Homo sapiens: one gene and its partners. The protein of the gene in region 1 interacts with the protein of each later gene in a pairwise test. Each region holds a gene or a part of one and is shown in the gene's direction. Other genes may lie near its edges. The genes, in order: MRPL19, TRIM55 and MAGEC1.

The links.
Region 2: the proteins of MRPL19 (region 1) and TRIM55 interact in a two-hybrid assay, tested with the Homo sapiens proteins (one study listed by BioGRID).
Region 3: the proteins of MRPL19 (region 1) and MAGEC1 interact in a two-hybrid assay, tested with the Homo sapiens proteins (one study listed by BioGRID and IntAct).

The regions. Positions count from the first base shown.
Region 1 is NC_000002.12:75,655,973-75,663,373, forward strand, and holds the end of MRPL19 (large ribosomal subunit protein bL19m), read left to right. Parts: 3' UTR 1-6,234; downstream 6,235-7,401.
Region 2 is NC_000008.11:66,122,354-66,130,128, forward strand, and holds the start of TRIM55 (tripartite motif-containing protein 55), read left to right. Parts: upstream 1-4,775; 5' UTR 4,776-4,915; coding exon 4,916-5,083; intron 5,084-5,945; exon of another isoform or gene 5,946-5,950; coding exon 5,951-6,123; intron 6,124-7,775. UniProt on the Homo sapiens protein: E3 ubiquitin ligase that plays an important role in regulating cardiac development and contractility, muscle growth, metabolism, and fiber-type differentiation.
Region 3 is NC_000023.11:141,898,507-141,907,358, forward strand, and holds the start of MAGEC1 (melanoma-associated antigen C1), read left to right. Parts: upstream 1-5,387; 5' UTR 5,388-5,472; intron 5,473-6,210; 5' UTR 6,211-6,308; intron 6,309-6,463; 5' UTR 6,464-6,566; coding exon 6,567-6,570; intron 6,571-6,902; coding exon 6,903-8,852.

The DNA.
Region 1 (7,401 bases):
TCTGGCTTCAGCTTCCTCTGAGAGTTTACAGAGGCCAATTTTGAGCAAATTCATGGCTAAGGTTATGAGTGAGTTCTGCTAAACAGAAGGCTCACCACAAGGTATCTGGCAGGATTATACTGGGTAGCTGGATGTTGCAGAAATGTGGTTAGAGGAAGTAAACTGTTTTTTGATGCTCACAGCATGATGAATCAAACTCTGTATCTTAGGATTAGGTTAAAACAATACCTTTGGTATGATATGAGTGTTGTTGCTGATCCATGCAGCATGGATTGGAAAGCTGGGGTATAAGCACACATGCTAAAGAAAAACATGTAATTTGGTCCATACTCACCTGGATATACTGTTCCTCAGGTTAAAAAATACAGTACTATCCTAAATCTTGAAGGCAACTCTCAGCCTATCCATTGAGTTACCTTCAGATCTGCCCTCTGGTTCCTAGCTGTCTTGGGACTAACTTCTTTCCTGCGCTCAGCTGTTTTCTGGATTCCATGTTTTCCATTTTATTGAGTACTAACTTGTTTTGCTGCAGCACATCCTTTGGTAGCTTCTAGAGGAAGTTTGTGTGGAGGTAAAATTTTTGAGACCTTGCATGTCTCATGTTTGATTGATACTTTATACGTTTAGGTAGGAGGTAATTTTCCTTCAGGACTTTAAAAATATTGTTGCTCCATTTTCTTTGTTTCTATTGTTGTATTGAGAAATCCAATGCCATTTTGATTTCCCCATCATAAATTTCATGATGATGTGTCTTGGTGTGGGTCTATATTTATCCATTGTATTGGGTTTTAGGTGAACCCTTCCAGATAGTAACTCATTTCTGTCAGTTCTGGGAAACACTTAGCATTGGTTGATGATTTATTCTCTGCTGCTTTGTTCTCCCAACTATTATTTGGATGTTGGATATCCAGCACTGGGTATCTATTTTCTTACCTCCCTCCCTTGACCCCAGTCTCTGTTTTTTAGCTCTTTAGCTCAATCTTCCAACTCTTTGCTATTGTATTTTAAAATCTTAAGACCCCTTCTTGATTTGTAGAAGTTCCTTTTCTTACAACCAAAAAGCCTTTATCTATGGATTTGTTCACAGATAAGGGGTATTCAATATAGTGTATTTTTTTTTCATTTAAAATTGTTTGCGCATCTATTTCCTCCAAATTTCTTTCTGTATTTATTTTTTGTTGTCTATATTTCAGACTTTTCCAGGATATCTGATAATCTTTGGCTGTCTTCTTATGGTTGAAAGAGGGACTAAAAAGCTTGGAAAGCCTTTGGGTTGTGGGAAGGGGCTGTCTTTAGGATTATCTGAATGGGCTTTTTTGGGAGTCCCCTCCTCCACATGAATATTTTGGTTTTGTCAGATTCCCTAGAATAGAGGCTTCCAATCTCCTTCCTGGAGGGGTCTGTCCAGGAAGGAGATTGTCTAGGGGTCTGTCAGACAGCAGCTTTCAGCTACTTCCTTGATCTTTTTCACTAATGATTATATAGTCATCTAACTACTGTCAACAAGTAATAGATATCCTATCCTTCACTTGTTTAGATTATTTGCTGAGATAACCTCTCAAAAGAACCTCTCAAAATAAAAGGTTAACAAGAGCCTATATCTTATATTTTTCTTCTCTTTATCTTGTTAGAAGATAGCTATTAAAACCTGTTCTTTTTCTGTCTTGATAAACACACTTCAATCTTGGTAGAATGGTAGATGGGACAGTATATTTTAGGACCTAAAGCTCTGCAAATGTATGATCAGCTTGTAAGTACAGGTGCTCAAAAACATGTAAACAATCATGCTTTTTACTCTGTAGGAATATCTTTAAAATTCTTGTGAATTTTTCCCCAGAAGTAAAGCAAATCTTCCCCCAGAAATAAAATTAAATGTGCATAATCTAAAGCTTTTTTTTTTTATTGTGGTAGGATATATATATAAAACATAATTTGCCATTGTAAACATTTTAAATTTACAAGTCAGAGGCATTAATTACATCACAATGTTGTGAAATTATTACTACTATTTCCAAAATTTTCTCATCACCCCAAACTGAAACTCTGTAACTGTTGAGCAATAACCTCATTCCTGTATCTCTCCCAACCCCAGGTAACCTCAAATCTTTCTTTTTATCTTTGAGACAAGGTCTCATTCTATCACTCAGGTAGGAGTGCAGTGGTGTGATCATAGCTCATTGCAGCCTCAAAATCCTGGGCTCAAGCAATCCTCCTTGAGTAGCTAAGACTATAGGCACACATTAACTGCGCCTGGCTGATTTTGTTTTTTGTAGAGATGTGGTCTTGCTATGTTTCCCATGCTGGTCTTGAGTTCCTGGCCTCAAGCAGTCCTTAAGATTCATCCATGTTGTGGCATGTGTCAGAATTTCATTTGTTTTTATGACTAAATAATATTCCATTGTATGTATATACATTTTGTTCATCCATCTTCTGATGAACACTGGGATATGTCTACCTTTTGGCTATTGTGAATAATGCTGCAGTAAACATTGACATAACAAGTATGTATTTGATTGCCTGTTTCTAAGTTCTTTTGGGTATACATCTTGAGTAGAATTGCTAGATAATGTCATGTTTTATTTCTCTTGTGATTTCTTCTTCGATCCCCTGGTTGAGTGTGTTAATTTCTACATGTTTATGAATTTCCCACTGTTTTTTTGTTATTGATTTCCAAGTTCATTCCATTGTGATTAGAGAAGATACTTAGTATGATTTTAATGTTTTTGAGAATTGGTGTGTGGCCTGATAGATGGTCTGTCCTGGAGAATGTTCCTCATACACTTGAGCAAAATATTTATCATGCTATTGTTGACTGTAGTTTTCTATATGTCTCTTAGGTCAAGGTGGTTTACAATGTGTTAAGGTTCTCTTTTTTTAAAAAAATTTTTGCACAGAGTATCTTTTTCTATGTGTTCCATGTATTTGTGTCTTTGGAGCTATAGTCTCTTGTAGACAGCATATCACTATCTTGTTTTGTTTTGTTTTTTCTGTCCATTCTGCCAATTTCTGCCTTTTGATTGGAAAATTTAATCCATTTGCATTTAAAGTAATTAAGGAAGGACTTTCTTCTACCATTTAACACTTCTTCTATATGTCATATACTTTTTTGGCCCCTCATTTCCTCTTTATGGCCTTCTTTTCTGTTTTTTTGTAGTGAACTAGTCTGATTCTCTTTCCACTCCCCTTTGTGTATATTTGTTAGATGTTTTATTTGTGGTTGCTATGGGGATTATAGTTAACATCCTACACTTAAAACAATCTAATTTAAACTGATACCAATTTACCTTCAATAGCATACAAAATCTCTACTCCTGTAAAGCTCTGCCCCTGCCCCCCTTATGTTATTGATGGCACAAATTGCCTAATAAATAATTTATAGTTATTTGTATGAGTTTGTCTTTTAAATCATTTAGGAAATAAAAAGTGGAGTTAGAAAACAGTATGATAGTAATACTGACTTTTATATTTGTCAATATATTTATCTTATTTTGGATCCTTATTTCATTATATAGATTTGAGTTACTGTCTAGTGCCCTTCCATTTCGGCCCAAAGGATTCCCTTATGCATTTCTTGCAGGGCAAGTCTAATTGTAATAAACTCCCTCAGCTTTTGTTTTATCTGAGAATGTCTTGATTTCTCCCTTATTTTTGATGGATAATTTTGCCAGATACATGAATTTTTGGTAACAGTATTTTTCTTTCAGCACTTTAAATATGTCATCCCACTACCTTCTGACTTCATGGTTTCTCATGAGATATTAGATGTTATAAAATTTGAGGATTCCTCATTCTTGATGAGTCAGTTCTGTCTTATTGCTTTTCGGATTTGCTCAGCTTTTGTCTTTTGACAGTTTGATTATAACGCGGCTCAGTGTGGGTCTCTGAGTTTATCCCACTTAGAGTTTGTTGAGTTTCTTGGAGTCATAGATTTATGTCTTTTATCAAATTTTGGACATATTTGGCTATTATTTCTTCAATTTTTTTCACTGCTTCTTTCTTTTCCTTCTGAAATATTCTTAATGTATATGTTGGTCTGTTTGATGCTGTCTCACCAGTTTCTTAGGCTGTGTTCTCTTTTGTTCCTCAGACTTGATTATTGCAGTTGCCCTTCTTTTTATTTTTTTCAAGTTTGTTGATTCTTCTCCCTGTTCAGATCAACTGTTGAACTCCTCTAGTGAATTTATTTCAGTTACTGTACTTTTCAGCTCCAAGATTTATCTTTGGTTCCTTTTTATAACGTCTGTGTCTTTATTGATATTCTCATTTTGTTCATATGTCTCTTTCTTCCTTTAGTTCTTTGTCCATGTTTTCCTTTAGCTCTTTGGGCTTATTTAAGACAATTGTTTAAAGTCTTTGCATAGTAAGTCCAATGTCTGTGTTTCTTCAGGGATGGTTTTCATTATTTTGTTTTCAATGAGCCATACTTTCCTGTGTCTTTGTATGCTGTCTTTTTGTTGTTGAAAACTGTATGTTTGAACATCATAACGTGGTGGCCCTGAAAATCAGATATTCCCCCCTTCCTGAGAGTTAGTTTTATTTTTATTATTGAAGATTGTAGCAGTCTATTGCTACATGTGCAGTCATTTCCAAACTATTTTTGCAAAGACTGTATTCCTTCTGTGTGTCATCACTGAAGTCTCTGTTCCTTAGTTTGTGTTTAATAGTTTGACATAGATTTCCTTGAAAGGAGTTAAAACTAGCAGAAAAATCTCTCTCCCAGTCTTTCCAGTCTTTGTAGATTGGTTCTGTGCTGGGCTTTTCCATTAATACTTAGCCAGGCTTGTACTGAGCCTAACAATCAGGCCCAAAAGCGTAGGGTCTTTGCAGATCTTGTCTGAGCATGCTTCTTGCTGTGTATGCACGTAGTTTTCTAAATCTCCCTGTATGTGCTGTTGAATATTCTAATTTCCCAAAGAAACTCCTTTGCAGCTTTTTCTCACAGAACATAGATGGTTTTTTGGATATCTTGACCATAGTCTTTCGACCCAGGTGTTTGCGGTTGTTAGTTCACCTTACACTTTTTTCAAGCATTGCCTACTGCTTACGATGAGTGCTCTGTCAATCCTTTAAGTAGCCCCAGACAGGCTACCAGAGACTTAAACAAGAATTTGTAAGTTCTGCTCAGCTTCCTCTAGAAATGGGGATCAGGGTCCAAGACAGAATGCAGTTGCTGATTTCAAGACTGCTGCAACACCAGGGAGCTTGTGGGGGAAGGGCAAGCAGAAATGTCACAAAGCTTTCTTGCCATTTTAAAGTTGCCTGTTCTTGACTCAGCATTTGCTTCATTGCTATAAACTTTTTACTGTTTTTCAGAGTTCTGATAAAATTGGCTATGCCTGTTCCTGCTTTAAAAAATATATATATATTTTTTAGGGATTGGGGTCTCACTATACTGACCAGGCTGGTCTTGAACTTCTGGCCTCAAGCCATCCTCTCATTTCAGCTTCCCAAAGTGCTGCAATTACACGCGTGAACCACCACACCCAGCCCCTGCTTGTTTTTCAATGTGCCTACTCCACCATGTTGCTCAAGTATGTATATTTTCTAAACTACCTTGTAGTGTTGTGATGGGAAATAAATCCCTGAGCCTTTTGAATAACTCAGAGAGATCAAAAACTTAGTTTATCCTATTCGAAGGATTAGAAAAATGATATATCTTTCACTTTTTCAGGGATAGGCTCCTCATTAGAAGGCTCCTATGTGCCGATGCTGTACAAGACATTTCATTTCTCTTAATGTTTACAACAAGCTTGTTGCCAAGGCTGATCTTGAACTCCTGGCCTCAAACGATCCTCCCAGCTCAGTCTCACAAAGTGTTGGGATGTCTGGCCAACTAATGACTATCTTAACTCTTGTGTTTCAATGTTTATGCCTTCTTTTATCTTGACTGATTGTATGACTATGTCTTCTAGAACAATGTTGAACAGAAATGGTGAGAGCAGACATCCTTGCTTTAATATTTCACCATTATATATGATGTTAGGTATAGATTTTTCTCACAGATGCCTTTTATCAGATTGAGGAATTTATATTCCTACTTTGCCGAAAGGTTTTTGTAGTATGAGGGGGTGCTGAATTTTGTCAAACACTTTTTCGGTAATAATTGAGATGATTGGTTCTGCAGTCATCGAGATGTGGATTTTCTCCTTTATTCTGTTCGTGAGTGATTACACTGGTTGACTAATGTTAAAACAACCTTACTTTCCAGGAATAAACCCTATTATCTTTTTTATACATTGCTGGATTTGATTTGCTAATTATTTTAAGGACTTTTATTTCTACATTCATGATAGATACTGCTGGTATTTTCTCATGATGTCTTTTGCAGGATTTGTATCATATATGGCATTTCTGAGGTATACCTAAGTATCATTTATTCAAGGACCTAAGAAATGGAAAAATCAATTGAGGTGATTTTTCCATCATGAAAAAAATTTCTTTAAAGTCATCTGTCTGATTCTGTAAAAATTTCACATTCTTTATGTGAACAAAAAGCTGAAAGAAATTCAGGGAAAGAATTAAGATGTGATATCAATTGCCAACCCAATGTTTTGTTCTTGCTAGTTGTGTTCCCCCTCCTTATTCCATCCATTTCATAGTAATAAGAAAAAAAAGAATTTTACATTGAGATTTAGGTAAATTTTTGAATTACAGTATATGATAAAAACCTTAACGTTCAAACTCCAGGTATAATGAAATTTAATTGAAAATTACTATAGCAGTTTAAGTCAATTTGTAGTTTTGAAAGCAGTTTTAATATTTTATCTTCCACAAAAAGGTAGGAAAGTTTCTGTGCTGAACTTAAATATATAAAGGAACACGTCCAACATATTTAGTTAAAAATCCAAAAGTCAGAGGATAATTTCCAAATGTGTACTTAAATAGAAAAAAATTACAAATTTCATGTGCAATAAAGTGTCTGCCACTTACGTAAAAAAAAAAAAAAAACCCAAAACTATGTACACATAGAAACACGTAACATTTTTGTAAATAGAGAAAAGGTCTAAAAGGATAACATTAAAATGAAAACAGCAGTTATCTCTGGGGACAGCGGTTGTGTGGAAATGCTAACTGCTTTTCAACAATAGTTTGCATTTTCTAGATGAGATTCTATCCTTGTATAATTTTGTTACTAATATAAACATCAAAAAATTCTTCATACCAGTGAATCACAAGTCCTCACTGCAACAGACATAACAAATCCAACTCCTAAAATAAATTATATGTAGTTTTGAAGGTAGAGGTGACATAAAAGTAGGCTGTATATTCAAATCCTACAATATATTCAATTTTTTCCAATTATCTTTTGAACAACAATTTGCAAAATATATTTACAGTTTCCCTTAAGTTATTTAATAAGTAGACTTAGAAAAATTACTAGTAAACTAACATTTTTGGAAA
Region 2 (7,775 bases), on another chromosome or scaffold:
GCTTCGAATCTTCCCGCCTTTGCTTCGAGCTGTCCCACATTTCCAGACCAAGCCAATGTTCATCTTGCATGTGTTGATTGATGTCTCATGTCTCCCTAGAATGTATAAAAACAAGCTGTGCTCTGATCACCTTGGGCACACGTCGTTAGAACCTCCTGAGGCCGTGTCACAGGCATGCATCCTCAACCTTGGCAAAATTAACTTTCTAAATTAACTGAGACCTGTCTCAGATTTTCGGGGTTCACAAGGTAAACCAAAAATATGATTCTAAGCCCCCCAACTCACTGATGGATGCCCCTTCTCGGCCAAGGTCATTCCAAAGTAAACCTAAAAAACTAGTTCAGGCCATTATGGGAAGATCACACATGACTCCTTCTAGCCTCTTCCTTTTAGAATTCAGGCTTAGCTGATCAGTATTAACACTAAAACAGAGATCTTAAGACTGAACAAACAGACTCTTTGTAGCAATAAGATACCAAATTCCAATCTGACTCTAGTATAGCATCGTATGACAGATAGCAGGCCCTGAAAGAAATTGAAGTATTTTACCCCAAAATATATTTCTTTGAAATATTTTGAAATGGCCCTGCAACACTGTCTCTTCTGAGGAAAATCTACATTCTATAGAGAATCCCTTCCTTTTGCAGGTCTTTTCCCTGATCCAGGAGAGATTTAACTAAGATTTAACTTCTATTCTCTCTGAAGCCTGCTACCCGGAAGCTTCTTCTGCACAAGGGCATTGGTCTTCACAACCCCTTATCTAAACCCAGACATATCTTACTATAAATTCCAGGTCCTTAGATAATATCTTAACTCTTTTAACCAACTGCCAATCAGAAAATCTTCAAATCTACCTATGACCTGGAAGCCCCCACTTTGAGCTGTCCCATCTTTCAGACCAAATTAATGTATATCCCCACATATATTGATTGATGTCTTATGTCTCCCTGAAACTTATAAAACTACACTGTAGCCTGACCACCTTGGGCACCTGTTCTCGGGACCTCCTGGGGCTGTCACAGGTCATGGTCCCCATATTTGGCTCAGAGTAAATCTTTTCAAATATTTTACAGAGTTTTACTCTTTTTCATTGACATTCATCAACTGGGCTCTTACTCCTGTGGGATTCATGCTGTTTTCCTGTGTAGCCTCCAGGGACAGTTCTAAGAAAAAGTAAAAGGCAGGGAGCAAGAAAGAACAGAGAGAAAAAAAAAGAGAGAGAAAGGAAGATAGAGATCAGCTCTGTAATCCCAGAGTTTTGGGAGGCCAAGGCAGGAGGATGGCTTGAAATCAGGAGTTCAAGACCAGCCTGGGCAACATAGCAAGACCCTTGTCTCTGCAAAAAATTTAAAAAATTAGCTGGGCATAGTGGTACACGCCTGTAGTACCAGCTACTCAGGAGGCTGAGGTGGGGGGATTGCTTGAGCCCAGGAATTTGAGGTTTCAGTGAGCTATGATTGCGCCACTGCACTCCAGTTTGGGCAACAGAGTGACCCTCTGTCTCTTAAAAGAAAATTCTGTTTCAGAGGTTTTTGTTTTTTTCTACAAATACTGCTAAATTAGGTTATGAACCCCACTCACTTATAGAGGGCAGAACTGAAATCCTCCTAGGTGAAGTCACTTTCCAAGACCACAAAGGGAGGTAGATGCAGAAGCTGGGAGAAAGCCTGACTGTCTCTGACTCACTCTGCAGCCTCTCACTACATCGTCGGTTACTCAGGCTCAGGCATCTGAGTCATCTGTGTGGATTCTACTTTCATAGCAGCCCCAGGGATCATTTCCTCCTTTCCTTCCCCACTGCCATGACCTGTGCCAGGGCTTCGCGACCTCTCACCTGGACTATTGGCAACAGCCTCTGATCTGGTTTTTAGCCAGCCACCTTCATGCTAATCTAACCCAATCATCGCTGAAAGATCAATCTAACCAACCACTGCTCTCACGGAAGTGTCCAGTGAGAAACTTTTAACGACTTCCTGCTGCTTAACTTATTAAGTGTTAAAAACTCTTTAGCACAGTATCCATGGCCAGCCAATGCTTGAGCGCGTGCCTGCACTCCAGCTCAAGCCACCGTGGCTCTGAGATCCCCTGCATGCCTGTGCATGCCCATGTTGCTGCTTCTGTGCCTTCTCTTGGAAAGCCCCAGCCATGCCCCACCTAACTACACGTCCATCCCTCTGAGATCCTCGGTGCAGCAGTTCAAACACTACCCCCACCCATGAAGCCCTTCTGATTCCTCTGACCCTGAAATGCTGTAGCTGTTGTGAAAGGAAAATAAATATTGGTATCCCAAAATCATTAAGCCAAAGGGAAAAGTCAAGCTGGGAACTGCGTCAGGCAAACCTGCCTCCCACGTTATTCCTAAATAAGATAGCTACAAAGATTTAAACGCTACATACCTCCCTTACAATTTGCACACTGGGAAATTCCTTATAGGCCCCAATATCTTTACCCTAAAACAGTTTTGTTGAATTTTACCCTGACAGTGTAAATTGACAGCTTATCTTCACAGGCATGGTACGAAGGACAGAACTCTAAGTCATCTCTCTGCTCACCTGAGACAAATGCATATCTGCTTTCTTCCTCTAATGTAAAAATGCAGACTCACTGAGCTAAAGGAAGACATAAATGACTATTATTCCTCTACCCACCGCCCAGCCCCAACATGTAAATTATGTATTTGGTGAAAGGCTGATCAAAGACTCAGAAGAATGCAACTGTTTGCCTCTTATCTACCCACAACTGAAATTTTTTTTCTCTTTCCCCAATATCCATTCTTTTCCCTTTAAATATTAAAGCCTTCGAAATCTTCTTTGGAGAAAGATGCAGGCCTGCCTCCTGGCACGCGCCCTTAACCTTGACAAAACAAACTTTCTCGATTGAGACCTGTCTCAGGTACTTTTTGGCTTGTACTCTTTATCACATTTTATTTTGTACTATGTTCTGTGTGTGCATGTCTCATCTCCACTCTTATACTGAGCTCCTTGAGGCCAATGACCTATGTCTTGTTCATCTTTCAATACCCAGAGCCTCACACAATGGAGACACACTACACATATCCAATGAATGTATTTTGAAGGAATGAATTCCTTCTAAAAGAAAAGACTCTGCTGCAATGTGCATGATTAGTCTAAGTGCTTTTACTTAGATAGCAAGGTCTTTTGCAGTAGAAACTTAATCTTTCCTAGAAAATATCCCACATATTGTACTCAGACCTCCCCTCCATAGCCCATGAATTGATAAACACAATTAACTGCCTAGGCTGGGTGAACCAAAGTAACTCAGTAAAAAAACTTTACCAGTTCCCGTCCTCCCTGTAGTTGCTAAATAAATATTGAAAGGACTAAGATAATTCTCTAAAGATCCCTGATATGCTTATGAATATATATAACTTATTATTAGTTAATAGAGCTTACTAGATTCTCAATAAGCTCTCCGTGCACACAGCACTAAGACCACACATAACTGACCTACACTTCACTGGTAATTTAATTCACACCAGGGATATGTTAACAAAATGTGTTTATTGCCCAAGGTTTTTAAAATGAAGGAGAAAGAAAGCCGAAATTTATCACATATAAACAGACTTGGATTTCTTTTTTATTTTTGATCTGATTTAAACATTTTTAAATACAATATGTATTGGTTAAACTGTTGCTTCACAAAATCCTGATGAATGTCAGAATCGATGTTTATGACTCAAGAGCAGACCAAGAATATCAGAAATGACCAGAGAAACTATGGTTTAACAAGTCACCTTGGAGGAAGGGGAAATGCAAGGGAGAATAGGTATTTTGGAGGCAGATGAAATGCAGATATGGAAGTAGGACTCCATTTATACTTCAGTTGTCAATGGCACTGGTAACTGTCCCCCAAGGGATGACAAAATAAAATAATAGATCTGCCACCTCCAGGTGCCTGCCAGTTACTACCTCATTACAGATTATTGTTGCAAACTATTATATAATTTAAGAATTTAAATAATCAGTAAAAGACTATCAAATTTTCTTTGTGTTTTTGGGTGTATGTAGGAGGTGGGGCAGTATAGGATGAAAGAGGGCCAAGGAAGAGGAAAGCAATGTGGAAGAGCAAACAGCATACTAGAGTTGTTTTATAATGTAACTTTTTTCTCAAATAATTAGATCATCCACTGGTTTTGAATTTTTATTTATGCATGTATTTATTTATTTATTAGGTGGATACCTTTATGGTGAAGGGATTTGAATTTAGCTTTTAAATTGGAATTTTTCAAAGACCACAACCCCAGCTGACAAAGATGAAATACTTAACATTAAGAAAGTCTTTTTGATGATTGCCTTTGTGAAGCCAGGATAACAATTTTCGAGACATGTTTTGTTCATTTTCACCTAAGAAGGTGCTATTAGGCTACTTTCCGTGACTCAATTCCTACACTCTCAAGACAGGGCTGGCATTAGTTACACAGACTCTGTGCTGCGTTCTGCCCCTTCCTGGAGAAGCCATCGCCAAGTTCTCAGTGAGTGCTCACAGAGGGCATGGTTCAGTGGCTAGGCATGCACATTTGCATTTGTTGTTGACAACTGTCAGCTTCGACCTCCTTCTCCTCACAACCCCGTCTAAATGGGGTTTGTAATCCTCCTTCCCACCCACTCTCTTCACTCCCTGGGGCAAGAATGTTGACTCCTGCTCTCCGTCACCTGTCAGGATCCATCCTCCTGTCACTGGCTTATATGGACACGTCAGCCCACCGTCACGTGACCGCAGGCTGCTAAAAACAGCTCCAGCACCCACTCCAAACCAGGGCCTGAAACAATGTCCTCCACCGAGAGAAACGTAAAGGACACTTGATCACACAATCCCTGGAATAATATCCAGGAAACACTTGCTGGAGCCACTCGCAGCACCCTTCCCTGGCAGCACACTTGGGGACAGCGAGGAGATGAGCGCATCTCTGAATTACAAATCTTTTTCCAAAGAGCAGCAGACCATGGATAACTTAGAGAAGCAACTCATCTGTCCCATCTGCTTAGAGATGTTCACGAAACCTGTGGTGATTCTCCCTTGTCAGCACAACCTGTGTAGGAAATGTGCCAGTGATATTTTCCAGGTAGGTTTGTTTGGAATTTGGTTGAGGGGAGGGGGTGGAAAAGATTCCCTCCTCTTGGAATCAAGTGCTTAACATTGAGGTGAAATCCTTTAAAAAACTTTATAAGGTTGCCGGGCGCTTTGGCTCACGCCTGTAGTCCCAGCACTTTGGGAGGCTGAGGCCAGTGGATCACCTGAGGTCAGGCCTTCGAGACCAGGCTGGCCAACATGGCAAAACCCCATCTCCACTAAAAATACAAAAAAAAAAAAATTAGCTGGGCATGGTGGCGGGCACCTATAATCTCAGGTACTTGGGAGGCTGAGGCAGGAGAATTGCTTGAACCCAGGAGGCGGACATTGCAGCGAGCGGAGATCGTGCCATTGCCCTCCGGCCTGGGCAACAGAGCAAGACTCTGTCTCAAAAAAAGAAAAACAAACAAACAAAAAAACTTTATAAAGTTGCATTTACTTTCAAGAAAAACACGTTTCTTTTAATGATTTGGTTTGTGTCCTCTTTACTCCCAAATCTAGTTTTATTTTAATACTAAGAATCATATTTTTTTTTAAGTCAAACCATTTAATGTGTTTCAAAACTATAAATGAGTAACTGCTGAAGACATGAGTGTGGAGTTTCTGGCTGGAACTTTTGGTTCTGAAAGTGGTGGACGGAAAAGCACCTTACGTGGACAATGGTATATTCGCAGATGACTGTGGATAAGGTCTGACCCTGTGTTTCAGGACCACTTGCTGAGAAAGCCCTGAGGGATGATCTTATGGCAAGCTTAAAGTAGAAGTTCATGTTGTTTGTAGTAGCAGAGAGTGAAAATAAGTCTCAGAGAAGCTGCTTGTGGCATTACCCAATTCCTTTTTTCTTACTTGGCAAGAACAGGCCTCTAACCCGTATTTGCCCACAAGAGGAGGTACCACCATGGCATCAGGGGGCCGATTCCGCTGCCCATCCTGTAGACATGAAGTGGTTTTGGATAGACATGGGGTATATGGACTTCAGAGGAACCTGCTGGTGGAAAATATCATTGACATCTACAAGCAGGAGTCCACCAGGTAACACTCTTCCACTCTTCCATGTGTCAAGCCCATCTGAAACTTGTTTTTGTTTGTTTGTTTTAATGGGTTGCTACGCTGAATGCTTGTTTATCAATCACAGACTGTTTTATGGAAAAATGGTTTTCCAAGTCAGTCCTTCCCAGTGAGACTGAGAGTTGCTCACAGCAGGAGAGAGGGGAGTTGGTGCCCATGCTTTTGTATCAATTTAAGAATGAAGTGACTCATTAACACCAATCCATTCCAGATGGTGATGCTGAAAGAGACATACTGCTGTCCCCCTCCACCTTAAAGCCTGGTATTACATCCATTTTACACATTTTGCACTTCACAGGCACTTTGTAGCTCCAGATCCCTACAAAGCAAAGAAAAAAAAATCTAGTAAATACTTAATAGAAAATTAATAGAAATGGCATCTTCCGAAGTAGCCCAGTTCCTAGTTCAGACAGTCTTGCCTTAAAATTGTTTGGATGATAATAAAAACAAAATCCTCTAACATAGGTTGTCACTGTATTTACTCTAAGGGAAGTCACAAAGCAAGGCAAAACCCTGGCCTTTAGGGACTTAAACTTCAGAGCCATGAGGAAAAAAAAGGGTGAAATTCAGGTTATGTTTCCCTATTCCTTATACTGTATTTACTGCATAGTCAGCATTCACTTGTTGATTGTGAATAACATCGTGATAGCATTATATATCTATCCATTCATTTTTAAAAAATAACAAAAAAGGCTTCTTATTCACCAAACCACATTGGCTATAGAATTCCTTTCCTAGACACAATGCTGCGGGAAGCTTATTCCTAGAAGGCACGGTGTGAAGAGCCCCTTTTCAATTGTGTGCAGGTCAGTCCAGTCCACAAAGCTTGATAGCAATATTGAGACCATCTAGAAATGGCCTCATTGTGATTCCATTAGGGGACACGTATTTATGGAACATCTGCAGAGCTCTAAGAGGCTTGTGCTCTTGGAAGGAAAGCTGTTCTATAAATCTAACATAATTATTATAATTATTATAGCTATTAATTTCCGCTAAAGATCCAAAACTAAATTAGACAGTACCAGGATCTAGATGGGTTTGGGGAAGAATTGCTGATGACATATTGCAGAGATTGCAGCTGGCTGTTTCCCTTGCTTCCAAAGTCTCTTGACAAGAACAAAAGTACTATTGCTGTTGCTGTTACTTTACAGATTTGATCTCATTGTATTTCACTACTTTAAAATACAAATACACACTTGTCTCTTAAAAACTTAACCAGCCAATTAAAAACCAATTAATTATGAGATTGATGCAAAAGTAATTGCGATTTTTGCAATTACTTTTCATGGCCAAAACAGCAATTACTTTGCCACCAACCTAATATTAAGAGAGTTTATATAACAAGAGTTTCAGTGCTAGTCCAGTGTCTTGCACAGAATAGTTGCTCCATAAATCCCAGCTGATTAAGCAATACCACAAATATTCTTACGTAACAAGTTTCAGAGCTAGTACAGTGCTTTGCACAGAATAGTTGCCCCATAAATCCCAGCTGATTAAGCAACACCACAAATATTCTTTCATGTTCTATTTATTGCAATAAATTTATGTTTTGTTACTTGTCACAGTGGGAACTTGAGACATGAAAAAATAGCAATACTTGTTATGAAATCCAGAGA
Region 3 (8,852 bases), on another chromosome or scaffold:
AAACAAGTTTAAAAAGGAGTGGGCAGGTGAAACTCCAGATGGAGCTTTCAAGTAAAAAGGCCCAGAGCTAAGGCAGTTTTGCCCTTCGGGAAACTTCAGGTGCTTCTGTGGGAGCTCATGGTTATGAAGCTGGTTGGTGGCAGGGCCCAGACCCTCAGAAGGTGATAGAAAAACCTGGAATGGAAAACTGCTCTGAGCAGTTCCTTCTGGTGTAGGATGAGGAAGAGAGGAGTCTCCACATGGGGAATTAATAGAAGGTGTCTTGCAGCTGTCTAACTGGTGAGCTTGAATACAGTGCAAGAACTAGGTGATTGATACCCAACATCTGCAAGGCTTTCCTGAGACATAGGGCGATAATCCCTTGAAGTGTTGCTCAGAAGCCTCTAGGCTGGCACTTATTTGACTGGCCTGGGAGAACCAGAGCCTACTCCATTGAAAGACATTTAATTAGGTTATTTCAATTGTAATGTGGGCAACTGTAAGCAAGGGCTAGATTTTTACTGGAGGACAAATGAAAATAGTGGTTTGGAAGGATGAGCAAAAGGCAAGGTGTAAAGGAGTTGGTGTTTGACTCAAATTCTAGCATCTTTGAGTTGCATTCTAGCTGAAGATGCCTTGCCTTTTCCAAATTATACAATATACCGTTTCAGAAAAAAATGTACTGGGTTTTATTTATGAAGCCAAAGTTTTGGTTAAGCTGGTATTCCATGACGCATTCACCTACATATTCTCTGAGATGTTATGGATAACAAAACTAAGAGCTGAATATTTCACAAAAGACGGTAACCTTTGGTGTGGTAATCATTGATAACAACTGCCATTTATTAAAATTCCAACATATGCCAGGCACTCTGGCAGGTGTTTTACTCACATTACATACACTCCAGCAATTCTATAAGACAGGGCTTATCAAACTCATTTTGCAGGTGAAGAACCCAAGGCTCATAATGCTTGATAAATTCCCAAGACCACATAGCTAGAATGTGACAAGGTTTTGACTTGAGCCCTGGTCTGAATTCATTTAGGCCCACACTGTCCCCACTCCTCCCAGCCTGAGGAAGGCCTTTGCCTGTTAAGTCACTTCTTTTCACACTTGTTAATGTCTCTGAGGTGAAATAAAGATGAACTGTGTGGCTAAGGTATTAAGTTAGGCCACAAGATGGAAGGTCAAATGGGAATAAAATACACTTCGGGGAACATTATTGGCTTTCTTTACCTAAAGTCCTCTTGTTCTGAGCCCTAGGTTTCTTGAGAGCTGAATGTCCAGGTGCTGACAGATTTGTCCATGCCCAACAATTTTTCCCATTGCAGCTCCCCCCAGCTCCTTTTGATCTCCCCTGTGTGGTCTCTTGTGCAACTCTGGAACCTGGCCTGCTGACTAACTTCTCATTACGGTCTCACCCTCTGAAGTGTGAGGACTGAGGAGTCACATGTGCACCAGAATAGATGTGAGACTAGCCCCTATTTCTCCTGGTGTAGAGTGCCTGGAGGTGGCTGCTGAACTCTCAGCGCAAGAACCTAGAAGCAACTGGCCTTCCCCTGAGATAGACCATTCCTACTGCCTGCAGAAGTTCCCTGACTCATCCATCTCTCCCCCAGGTTCCTCTATGATAATGGCCTTTCGATGTGACTATTCGCTTTGGATAGTGACATTTCCATACCTAGGCTGGGCATCTTCAACACACTCTCAACGTATTACCAAACAGGCTGCAGAGTAAAATCTGATTTGCCAGATAATATATGGGTTTTAGGGATGTAATCCTAAGGTCAGAAATAGCCTATTTGAAATCTTTCTAATATTTGATACTTGTAGTATGATTTTAATGAGATGCATTATTTGAAACAGGGCACTGAAAACAGAGATGAACAGGCTTTTGTAGATGATCAAATGCCAATCTTTCCTTCATAAACTTTGTAGATGAGGAAAGGCTATAGACGTCACTTTGTAAATGATCCACAAGAAGGTGAATTTCTAAAAAACACAAAACAATATCTTGAAGACTGCTTAGGAGGTGACAAGGATACTTTGGGGGACATGCTGGTTTTGATGAGAAATAAACAGTAGTTAAATATCCTTCCACTCTCTCTTGTCTGTGTACCTGCCCCACAAGAAAATCCTGGCTTGCAGTGAGCCACAGGCCCATGTATAGCTGTTCAGGTATGTTCCGTCATATGGAGGGTAGCAGAGGCTCACAGGGTAGATTATTTACCGTACACGAAAAATATGACAGAATTCTCAGCCTAAAGAAATTATACAGGTTATTAAAAAGGACAGTGCCAAGTGCTGTTGAGGGAATAACGTAGACCCTCCCTGCCAAGACTTACAGAATTGTTTTAAAACTGGATGTAATCCTGAATTTGAAACCACCAGTCACCTCGTAGGTGCAAGAAAAAGTTGGAAGATTTCAAGGCTACGAGGACATTCCCAGAAACAATTCCAAGCAATGAAGGCACTTACTGTCATCAATTATAATAGTTGCTTTTCATTGAGCACCGTAATAACATATGGGAGAGATTGCAAGTGCCCATCTCCATCTTGTCTAGCTCGCCTTCCTGGCGGGTTCATTTGTAGTTAGACAGAAGCCAGTGTATCATTCCCATGCTTTCATTTCCGTTCAGCACTTAACATCTGTTGTGACGTGGAGCTATAAGGTGACAGCAGCTTGGATTCCTGGCTGAGGTGAAAGCCAGGACCCGCCGTGGATTAGTTTCTTATACCATAACAGAATACCACAGACGGGGTGACTTAAACAATACAAATGAATTTTCTCCCATTTCTGGAGGCTAAATATCTAAGATCAAGATGTGGGCCAGTTTGATTTCTTCCCTGGCCTCTCCGTGGCTTGCTGATGGCCACTTTCTCACTAAATTCTTACATGGTTTTTCCTTGGTCTGTGTGTCTGTATCTTAATCTGCTCTTTTATGAGGACACCTGTCATACTGAATATGAGCCTAACCTTAAGACCTCATTTTACCTTAATTACCTCTTTAAAGTTTCTATCTTCAAATACAGTCACATTCTGGGATACTGGGTTTTAAGACGGATATATGAATTTTGGGGGAGATTCAAAATTCAGCCCATAATACCCTGCCAACTAAATTCAGAATTTATGTACAAAAAAGTAAACGTGTTGAGTCATGTAAAAATGAAGGATTTTTTTGTTGTTGTTCCAAGAGCTTACTGTTATTTTATCTGCCTCCTGGACTGCTCCTCATCCTTTTCTTAGGCTTATTTCAATACTTTCCTTACAAATAAATACTGCATATATTGTTGTTGCAAAAACTTAAAAAAAGAGGTAGAAATCACAATTCTCCCTTTTGGAAAGTTCCTCCAAAATTCAGCCCCCTATTCAGAAGTTTCCACAATTAACCGTGTGGTGTTTAAATTTAAAAGCTGATTTAGAATTTTGAGAAGATTGATGTGGTTTTTAAAGTAAAATTTATACATATATGAGCTTATGTATGTGTTTATAACTACACATGGGTAATAATATACATATAGGTCTGCCACTTCCCTTTCCACTATTATAGATTCAATTGCACCCCCACTGAAGTCTTATGTTGAAATTAACATGTGGCATTATTTGGAGACGGGATTATCTCAGAGGCAAGGAAGTTAAAATGTGGTTATTAAAGAAGAGCTGGTACTATTCCTATGCAAACATCCTTTGTTTATTAATAAACATACTTTATTCACATTTATTTCCTTGTCACGAAAGTCTATTTTCTGTCCCAAGATACCCTGAGGATACGCCATTACACTTGTTCATCATGTCTCTTTAAATGCCCTTTGGCTGTGCCAGTTCACTGAGACTTCTCTTGATTTTGAAAACATTGACAGTTTGGAGGTGTATGGTCAGGTATTTTGTAAAATAGCCTTTGATTGGGAATTAAGTGATTATTTTTTATGATTTGATGTAGGTTACGTTTTCTCGGAAGATGAACAGAGAAGTGAAGTGCCATTCTTATCATATCATACCGACGGCACATAATACCAACACAATTTGTCACTGATGATGTTACTTTGATCACCATGGTGACCTAGTGTTTGTCAGTTTTCTTCAGGGTAAAGTCACATTACTTTTTTCCCTGTGTCATACTGTCATCTTGGGAAGGATAGGAAGACCCAGGACCAGCCAGTAGTCAGATGAGGCCTCTGAGGGAAAACTGCAGAAACCTCCTGCCCACAAAGAAGAGGATCCACAGAAACCAGCTCCCCACCTGTTGTCATCCCTGGGAGGCCCAGGGGCATGTTGACCCACAGTGCTGTCCCCTGACGTCTTAGCGTGTAGAAAGAGGAGAAGGCTGTGCTTAGGTGAGTCTCACTTCAGATCATGAGAGCGGAAGATCAGGAGGGGGGCCTTCTAGGCATCCCCAGGCTGATACAGAGGATGGACTGGTGAGCTACCCCACCACGGACACAGGAGGATCCCCAAAAACCTGCCCGTTTTCACTGCTAGGAGGCCTTGGGCAGGGCCATTAGGGAGAGACGCTAGCGTGCTCCAGTCCCTCTTGGGGGGTTCATGGAAATGGGAACCTTGATCTGAAAAACAGTCCCTGGAGAGAAGAGGGAGGGAGTGGAGGCCGTATCAGGAATAATAGGTTGAGGAAGACTGAGGGTCCCTCCCATGCCATTTCAGACGGAGGGCAGTGGAGCCCTACCTGGAGTCTGGGAGGCCATACCCCACTGTGGATGGATGTGATTCTACCTCTCTTGCACCTTGCAGGTCTCAAGGATGGGAGGGGCTTATTCGGAGGTGAAAGACTCAGATGCATAGAGGCAGGGAGCCCAGACAATGTCAGGAGTCCAGGAACAGCCTCTCAGGAAGGCAGGAAGGGAACACCCATGACTGGTAGTGCTGCCTGTCCTGTCCCTGTGCCTGCTGCCAGCCATGGAGGAGCCCATCAGGGTCCCCAGATTTACAAATTTCTGACTTCCATTTTGGGAGTCAGCCAGAGGGGAGATTTTCTCTGAGGAGGGCAGCTTCAGTTAAACAGAGGGAGTAGCCCCAGGGCTGGCCACTCAACAAGAAGAGAACTCTGTCGAAGGACAGTGACCTCCGAACACGGGGGAGGCACAGGCTGCACCCTGCCACTCCCTGCTGTCAGCCCTGGAAAAAGGTGGGGTGTGAGTGTCAAGGACTGGGGAGGTGGGAGGGAAGAGGTCAGCAGGGCTTAGGGAGTGAGCAGAAAGGTTTGGAGCACATCCTGGAGGTGGGAAGGAAGGGATGGAAAGGAGGCTGACAAGCGGGCGGCGGGGGGGGGGCGCCTTCCTCCTCTGAGAGGAGGCCCCGCCCCACGCTATCCGGGCTGTCAGCCCTGATCAACCCTGACAGAGTTCCCGGATGTGCTTTGCCGGATGTGCTTTCCCGGCGGCCATCTTGGGAGTCTGAAGGACCTGAGGCATTTTGTGACGAGGATCGTCTCAGGTCAGCGGAGGGAGGAGACTTATAGACCTATCCAGTCTTCAAGGTGAGGGCCCCGAGGGAGAAGTGAGGGACAACCCCACCACAGAGAGAAGCAGCCCTGGCCTGCCCTATCCCTGCGGTGGCACTTGTAGGTGGCGGAAACGAAGATGGTAGCCGAGGGCTGAGGGACGTGTCCTCACGGCAGAAGAAGGGAGGAAATGCCGGCCCTCTAGAGAATAAATAGGAAGGCATTGAGGAGGACCGGGGGAACCCCCACCTCAGAGGACAGATTCCCAGAGATTCCCACCCTGCTCCTCAAATCAGCCCCCATAGAGCTCCCCAGGTGGCTGAGGCTGAGCGGCCACCCTCTCACTGCTGGGTGAGGGGTGTAGGGGAGGGGGAGGAGGAGGCCTTGTTCTGGGGGTCCCATGGCAAGTCAGCATGGGGAGCTGCCTCCAGTTGGCAGAGGGAAGATTCCCAGGCCCTGCTGGGAACAAGAGTGAGGACTGAGGGGTCACATGTGCGTCAGAACAGACGTGAGGCCACAGGGACCGCCCCCGTGGTAGAGTGCTGGGAGGTGGCTGCCACCTCACTACCTCCCACTGCTCTCAGTGATGTGGAGTTTTCCTGAGGTTTTTCCTCAGGCCAGCAGAGTGGTGGGGGCCTGGCCCTGTCTGAGAAAATGTGACAATGCTAATTGAATTCTGAGGGGGTCACGAACCTCAGAATTGTGGGACTCTGGGAGTCTGGCCAGCCCCAGCTGCCGTCTTAGCTGGAGGGGCTCCCTCCCTTCCTCTTGCAGGTGCTCCAGAAAGCAGGAGTTGAAGACCTGGGTGTGAGGGACACATACATCCTAAAAGCACCACAGCAGAGGAGGCCCAGGCAGTGCCAGGAGTCAAGGTGAGTGCACGACCTGACTGTGTACCAAGGGCCCTACCCCCAGAAACAGGGCAGACCTGGCAGCACCCGGCCTGTAGCCACCCACTGTCATTCCTGGTGCCTCAGGCTCTGCCTGCCAGCTGTGCCCCGAGGTGCTTTCTCGCGTCCTTCTACAGGTTCCCAGAAGACAAACCCCCTAGGAAGACAGGCGACCTGTGAGGCCCTAGAGCACCACCTTAAGAGAAGAAGAGCTGTAAGCCGGCCTTTGTCAGAGCCATCATGGGTGAGTTTCTCAGCTGAGGCCACTGGCACTGTCCCTCTCTCCCTCAGTCCTGTGGGATCCCATCATACCTATTCGTGTTCACACGTTTACCTGCTGCTCCTGAACAATATTCATCATGCCTCTCTTTCTAAACCTTCCACGCCCCAGCTTTGAGCAAGGCTTCCAGAAGGCAATTTTCATACTGGAGTTGGTAGATGCAGAGGATCCCCCAGATGAGGAAGAGGAGGAAGCTTCCTCCATTTTCTCTTCCTCTTTCCACTTTTTATTCCCCTCGTCCTCCTCCTGTTTTTCTTTCTCATCCTCATCCTCCTCTCTGCTTCTGCGTTCTCCAGGGGACAAGGATATGCCTACTGCTGGGATGCCGAGTCTTCTCCAGAGTTCCTCTGAGAGTCCTCAGAGTTGTCCTGAGGGGGAGGACTCCCAGTCTCCTCTCCAGATTCCCCAGAGTTCTCCTGAGAGCGACGACACCCTGTATCCTCTCCAGAGTCCTCAGAGTCGTTCTGAGGGGGAGGACTCCTCGGATCCTCTCCAGAGACCTCCTGAGGGGAAGGACTCCCAGTCTCCTCTCCAGATTCCCCAGAGTTCTCCTGAGGGCGACGACACCCAGTCTCCTCTCCAGAATTCTCAGAGTTCTCCTGAGGGGAAGGACTCCCTGTCTCCTCTAGAGATTTCTCAGAGCCCTCCTGAGGGTGAGGATGTCCAGTCTCCTCTGCAGAATCCTGCGAGTTCCTTCTTCTCCTCTGCTTTATTGAGTATTTTCCAGAGTTCCCCTGAGAGTACTCAAAGTCCTTTTGAGGGTTTTCCCCAGTCTGTTCTCCAGATTCCTGTGAGCGCCGCCTCCTCCTCCACTTTAGTGAGTATTTTCCAGAGTTCCCCTGAGAGTACTCAAAGTCCTTTTGAGGGTTTTCCCCAGTCTCCACTCCAGATTCCTGTGAGCCGCTCCTTCTCCTCCACTTTATTGAGTATTTTCCAGAGTTCCCCTGAGAGAACTCAGAGTACTTTTGAGGGTTTTGCCCAGTCTCCTCTCCAGATTCCTGTGAGCCCCTCCTCCTCCTCCACTTTACTGAGTCTTTTCCAGAGTTTCTCTGAGAGAACTCAGAGTACTTTTGAGGGTTTTGCCCAGTCTTCTCTCCAGATTCCTGTGAGCCCCTCCTTCTCCTCCACTTTAGTGAGTCTTTTCCAGAGTTCCCCTGAGAGAACTCAGAGTACTTTTGAGGGTTTTCCCCAGTCTCCTCTCCAGATTCCTGTGAGCTCCTCCTCCTCCTCCACTTTATTGAGTCTTTTCCAGAGTTCCCCTGAGAGAACTCACAGTACTTTTGAGGGTTTTCCCCAGTCTCTTCTCCAGATTCCTATGACCTCCTCCTTCTCCTCTACTTTATTGAGTATTTTCCAGAGTTCTCCTGAGAGTGCTCAAAGTACTTTTGAGGGTTTTCCCCAGTCTCCTCTCCAGATTCCTGGGAGCCCCTCCTTCTCCTCCACTTTACTGAGTCTTTTCCAGAGTTCCCCTGAGAGAACTCACAGTACTTTTGAGGGTTTTCCCCAGTCTCCTCTCCAGATTCCTATGACCTCCTCCTTCTCCTCTACTTTATTGAGTATTTTACAGAGTTCTCCTGAGAGTGCTCAAAGTGCTTTTGAGGGTTTTCCCCAGTCTCCTCTCCAGATTCCTGTGAGCTCCTCTTTCTCCTACACTTTATTGAGTCTTTTCCAGAGTTCCCCTGAGAGAACTCACAGTACTTTTGAGGGTTTTCCCCAGTCTCCTCTCCAGATTCCTGTGAGCTCCTCCTCCTCCTCCTCCACTTTATTGAGTCTTTTCCAGAGTTCCCCTGAGTGTACTCAAAGTACTTTTGAGGGTTTTCCCCAGTCTCCTCTCCAGATTCCTCAGAGTCCTCCTGAAGGGGAGAATACCCATTCTCCTCTCCAGATTGTTCCAAGTCTTCCTGAGTGGGAGGACTCCCTGTCTCCTCACTACTTTCCTCAGAGCCCTCCTCAGGGGGAGGACTCCCTATCTCCTCACTACTTTCCTCAGAGCCCTCCTCAGGGGGAGGACTCCCTGTCTCCTCACTACTTTCCTCAGAGCCCTCAGGGGGAGGACTCCCTGTCTCCTCACTACTTTCCTCAGAGCCCTCCTCAGGGGGAGGACTCCATGTCTCCTCTCTACTTTCCTCAGAGTCCTCTTCAGGGGGAGGAATTCCAGTCTTCTCTCCAGAGCCCTGTGAGCATCTGCTCCTCCTCCACTCCATCCAGTCTTCCCCAGAGTTTCCCTGAGAGTTCTCAGAGTCCTC